Regions from separate parts of the Homo sapiens genome. Here region 2 is linked to region 1. The links come from fine-mapping of genetic effects on gene expression. Tissue or cell type: whole blood. Region 1 holds a variant in brackets; the other region holds the start of a gene. All regions are shown on one strand. Distances are from middle to middle. Region 1 overlaps ATCAY (ATCAY kinesin light chain interacting caytaxin). Region 2 holds the start of APBA3 (amyloid beta precursor protein binding family A member 3).

Region 1 (2,808 bases):
CATTCATTCTGATGCTATGCGCCAACTGTATACCAGTCCCTTATAGCCTCACAACCCAATACAAGGTGGCAGCTGGGTTCATGGCACTTCTGACCAGGCCAGGGAGGGAAGGGGAGCTGTGATTCTTGGCTGTGAAGGGTGAGGAGGGATGAGCCGGGGAAGGAAGTGGGGTGTAGGGGCCCCACATTCCAAGCAGAGAGGGCAGCATGTGCAAAGGCTCTGGGCTCAGTGGAAGCAGGTTGAGGGACTGGGGAAGGCTGCGTGGGGAAACTGAGGACTTGGGGGAGGAGCTTACCCAGGGCATCCTAGCCAAGGAGGGTCAGATGCAGGGTGAGCTGCCCCATAGCTCCCTCTACTCTCTTCCCCTCACAGCTGAGTGGCTGCCAGTTTTGTTTGCTTGCTTGTAACTTTTTCTTTGTTTGTTTTGGGTTTTCTGGGGGGTTTTATTTATTTATTTATTTGAAACAGAGTCTCGCTGCAACGCCCAGGCTGGAATGCAATGACGTGACCTCGGCTCGCTGCAACCTCCACTTCCCAGGTTCCAGCAATTCTCCTGCCTCAGCCTCCCAAATAGCTGAGTTTACAGGCGCCCACCACCACGCCCAGCTAATTTTTGTATTTTTAGCAGAGATGGGGTTTCACCATATTGGTCAGGCTGGTCTCGAACTACTGACCTCAAGTGATCCACCCGCCTCAGCTTCCCAAAGTGCTGGGATTACAGGCGTGAGCCACCATGCCCAGCTGCTTGTAACTTTTTAATTTTTTTTTTTTTTCCAGACGGGGTCTTGCTCTGTCACCCAGGCTGGAGTGCAGTGGTGCGATCATAGCTCACTACAGCCTCCACATCCCAGGCTGAGGCGATCCTCCCACTGCAGCCCCCTGAATACCTGGGACCACAGGCATATGCCACCACACCCAGCTATGTTTTATTTTCTGTAGAGACAGGGTCTCACTGTGTTGCCCAGGTTGGTCTCAAACTCCTGGGTTCAAATGATCCTCCCACCTCAGCCTCCCAAAATGCTGGGATTACAGGCATGAGCCACTGCGCCTGGCCTATTTGATATACTTCCAAACTTGGAAAAAAATTACAAGAATGATATAAAGAATATCTGCATACCTTTAGTAGGATTATACAATTGTTAACATTTTGCTCCTTTTATATCAAAGTCAGCCCTCAGGGCTGGGTGCGGTGACTCACATCTGTAATCCCAGCACTTTGGGAGGCCAAGGCAGGTGGATCACCTGAGGTCGGGAGTTCAAGACCAGCCTAGGCCAACATGGTGAAACCCCGTCTCTACTAAAAATACAAAAATCAACTGGGTGTGGTGGCGGGCACCTGTAATCCCAGCTACTGGGGAGGCTGAAGCAGGAGAATTGCTTAAACCCAGGAGGCAGAAGTTGCAATGAGCCCAGATTGTGCCGCCACACTCTAGCCTGAGCAACACAGCAAGACTCTGTCTC[CA/C]AAAAAAAAAATTTACCCTCAATTGTACCGATAATGTCCCATGTCCCTATTTAGCTAATGCCCCTGCCCCAAACCCTGGGTCCAAGACCCAATCTGGGACCACTCATTGCATCAGGTTGAGTATACTGGGTTGTGTGTTTACTGGGGTATGTGTCTCACCAGGCACTGGGACTTAAACTTATCTCTTTTAGGGGAACACGATCCAACCCACCTCAGCAGGACGAAGCCACGCTGTGCATCTTGCATGTGGGGGGGACCCCCACTTTTTTTTTTTTTTTTTTTTGAGACGGAGACTTGCTCTGTCGCCCAGGCTGGAGTGCAGTAGCATGATCTCAGCTCACTGCAACCTCCGCCTCCTGGGTTCAAGCGACTCTCCTGCCTCAGCCTCCCAAGTAGCTGTAGCTGGGACCACAGGCATGTGCCACCATGCCAGGCTAATTTTAGTATTTTTAGTAGAGACGGGGTTTCACCATGTTGGCCAGGCTGGTCTTGATCGCTTGACCTTATGATCCACCTGCCTCGGCCTCGCAAAGTGCTGGGATTACAGGTGTGAGCCACCATGCCCGGCTAGGATTTCCACTTTTTACCTGGATTGCCCATCATGGACTTTGAGAGCCGGCTCTGCAGAGGGCTAAGTGGATATATTATACCCCAGGGCCACGGAGGGGATCTCCAAGTCTGGAGAGTCTGCGGTTCTCCTGGAGCTTGCGGAAGTAACAGGATCTCACCTGACCTTGGAAACTGCAGCTCCATGAACAGGCGGGGAGAGCTTGCTCCACCCATGTTCCAGAGCAGTGGGTCTTCCTTCAGGGAGCCTGGAGCCCTGCCAGGTCGGCTTCTCCAGTTCTGCATGATCTTAAACCTTTCCTGAACATCCACTGCAACTGGCAGCTCAGCCTCAGGACCTCATCCCATCCCCGAGGCACTGCCTCTCCCTGGCCCTCCCTCCCTACCCTCCATCCTCCAACCACTCCCTCCTCCCCCACTGCTCTCTCTGCGCCAGGCACCCTGAGTCTGCTTTCTGATCTGCCCTTGAACTTGGCAAGCTTATTCCAGTCCCGGAGCCTGGGCCTCTGCAGTGCCTTCCATCTGGAGTGCTCTTGCCTGGTCTCTGCAGGACGCCAACATCATGCTTAAAAGTCTACACTTAAAAGTCGCTTCCAGCCAGGCACAGTGGCTCACTCCTGTAATCCCAGCACTCTGGGAGGCCAAGGCGGGAGGATCACTTGAGCCCAGGAGTTCAAGACCAGCCTGCAAGACCCCATCTGCAGAAAAATATAAAAATTAGCTGGGTGGCCGGGCGCGGTGGCTCACGTCTGTAATCCCAGCACTTTGGGAGGCCGAGG
Region 2 (2,808 bases), 130 kb before region 1:
GGCTCATGCCTGTAATCCCAGAATTTTGGGAGGCCCAGAAGGGCTGACTGAACCCAGGAGTTCAAGATCAGCCTGGGCAACAGAGCAAGACCCTCTCTCTACAAAAAATACAAAAAATTAAGGCCGGGCACAGTGGCTCACGCCTGTAATTCCCAGCACTTTGTGAGGCCGAGGCGGGCAGATCATGGGGTCAGGAGTTTGAGACCAGCCTGACTAACATGGTGAAATTCCGTCTCTACTAAAAATACAAAAAATTAGCCAGGTGTGGTGGCAGGCACCTGTAATCCCAGCTACGCAAGAGGCTGAGGCAGGAGAATCGCCTGAACCCGGGAGGCGGAGGTTGCAGTGAGCTGAGATCGCGCCATTGCACTCCAAGGTGGGCGACAGACGAGACTATCTCCAAAAAAAAAAAAAAAAACTAGCTAGGGGTGGTGGTGTAGGCTGTAGTCCCAGCTACTTGGGAGGCTGAGGTGGGAGGATCACCTGAACCAGGGGAGGCAGAGGCTGCAGTGAGCCTTGATTGTGCCACTGCACTCCAGCCTGGGTGACAGAGTGAGGCCCTGTCTTAAAAAAAACAAACAAACCCGAAAAACAAAAAACTTGAGGTTTCCCGGCTGCCTATCCGGTGCTAGGCTCTAGCTGGGTACTGTTCATACAGGGCACATAATTTAATACCCACTAACCCTTGCAAGGAAGTTAGGATTCCCATTTTACAGATGAAGAAACTGAGCCACAGAATGGGGAGGTGTGAGGCAGTGGCTTCCCGAGCCCCTGTGTCATCCCAGACCTCTCTCAACTAATGGAGTCTGTTCACTCCAGCCCTGGTTCTTCCAGGTCCTCCTCCCTCAAGACGCGGAACCCAGGCTGGAGACCCAGACCTCACACCCTGACTCTACCGACTGGTCAGAGGCAGTTCCCCAAGACCCCAGACCCAAGACCCCAGTCCCATGACCTCAACCCCCAATACCTCCATCCAGAACTTTAGACCCAGGACCCTGGACTTAATACCAGAGACCCAAGACGCCATAAGGCGGACCCCAGTCTCCAAACCTCCAATGCTACCCCAAGATCGACTCCAGACTCAGACCCCGACTTCAGGACCCAGCCCCAAGCCCAGACCCTAGTCCCCCCTCAGACCGAAGACCTCAAGCGCCGACTCAGACTGCGCTCTGCACCTCGAGGACACTCACTTCCCAAATCGAGGCCGCCTCAGCCCCGCGCAGCCTCCAGGACCCCGCTCCCCACGGACGGCCCCGACGTAGCCCGGGCCGCGTCCCCAGAAGGCGCAGCTCGGGGATTCCCGGTCCCGGCGCCCGCTCCTCTATCCGCGCAGAGCCCTGGCCCATTGAGCATGCGCGGCCTCGCGAGGCCTGCTGGGAAATGTAGTTCTCCCACCCAGCCTCGCCACGCGGGGGCGCTGGGACAACTGCAGATGTTGGAGGGGAGTTCGAATCCCAGGCTTCCCGGCCCGCAGACTGCCCCGGCTGGCCCCAGGACCTGTTTGTTCTCCTGCAAAATAGGGTTAATAATCACTGCCTGGCTCTGGGGGCTGTGTTCATTATTCCAAAGGATGGCAGATGGGGAGAAGTGGGGTTGGGAAATATTAAAGAAGTGTGAGAGGTGGTTTCCTTGGGACCTTGAGGCACCGGAAGCGTCGTGGAGACCCTGTTAAAGACGGACTTTCGGTTTGGCTCACAGTAGGGAGACACATAGGTGCACCATGGATTTGGGGTCGGCCTGGGAACTTTACCTCCCTGAGAACTCAGTTTCCTCATTATAAGCTGGGGAAAAAATAGTACCTACCTCTCAATTGTGAGGATTAAATTAGATCAAGCGGGTTAAGGATTTAGCAGTAGTAGAGCTGGAAAAGAATATATAAAATATATATTATTAATTTATATATTATATATAAAACATACTATATATTATATGTATTATATATGTTATATATAATTTTAAAAATATAATGTTATAAAAATTAACAGTGATTAGACTCCAGCCCTACTGGAGTATATTAGACTCATTGTTAATCTTCTTTTTTTAACTTTAAAGCTTTGAATAATTACTCATTGGATGGAATCAGGAACATATAAAGTGTGATATTTTTAGTAAATGTTATGTAATTGAAGAAGGGCAAGAAGTCAATGAAATATCCCTTGAACGCCTCCTCCTATAGTAACTGTGTATGTCTACAAAAGTCTGAAGAAATCACCATAGATTATGAAAGCTTGGGAGACCGCATTTCCCAGACACCTCCACGGGGCCTACACTTCCACGGGGCCTACAACTCCCAAACACCCTTGGGCCACTGACGTCTTCCGGAAACGTGCACTTGCAAGCTGCCCGCAATACGTCATGGCGACCAAACGCCTTTTCGGGGCTACCCGGACGTGGGCCGGCTGGGGGGCCTGGGAGCTCCTAAACCCCGCCACTTCCGGAAGACTCCTGGCCCGGGATTATGCCAAGAAACCAGGTGAGCTGGGTTAAGAGGAACCAAATGGGGACGGTGGGTGCACTGAGGAATTGACAGTGCGCAGGCGGTGGTTGGGGAGGTGGTGCTAGAACTGATGCGCAAGCGCAGAGAGGCGGATGCCAGGCTGTATGCGCAGGCGCAGTTTGAGGGACCCAGCGCCGCTTGGAGCTCGGGCGTCTGGCTCGGAGATACTGTAGCGATTGGACCCAGGGCGCAGGCGCCAGCTTGGGGCGGAGCGGCCTGGGAGGAGGATGTGGTTACGTGGAGACCACGCGTTTCACTGCGCAGGCGCGGGTTGGAAAGGATTTGAAGGGAGTCTGGGGAGGTCATGAACT

The links. PIP is the estimated chance that this variant, and not a neighbour inherited with it, causes the effect.
Region 2: it holds the start of APBA3, and the variant in region 1 is the best candidate, but not a certain one, in a credible set for the expression of APBA3 in whole blood (INTERVAL, PIP 0.63).

What each region holds. Positions count from the first base shown.
Region 1 is chr19:3,891,447-3,894,254 of GRCh38, forward strand. The region is part of intron 2 of ATCAY (ATCAY kinesin light chain interacting caytaxin); the gene reads left to right. Among named protein-coding and RNA genes, the nearest start is that of ATCAY, 12 kb to the left of the region's middle. The variant CA/C (reference allele first, on the strand shown) is at 1,462.
Region 2 is chr19:3,760,346-3,763,153 of GRCh38, forward strand. APBA3 (amyloid beta precursor protein binding family A member 3) reads right to left here and starts at 1,347. Exons shown (of 11, transcript NM_004886.4): 1 at 1,191-1,347. MRPL54 (mitochondrial ribosomal protein L54) reads left to right here and starts at 2,337. Exons shown (of 3, transcript NM_172251.3): 1 at 2,337-2,473. The coding sequence starts at 2,356. LOC105372248 (a long non-coding RNA gene) reads right to left here and starts at 2,295. Exons shown (of 3, transcript XR_936268.1): 1 at 2,213-2,295; 2 at 1,804-1,861; 3 at 1,409-1,509. RefSeq lists a silencer at 1,232-1,549 and an enhancer at 2,211-2,700.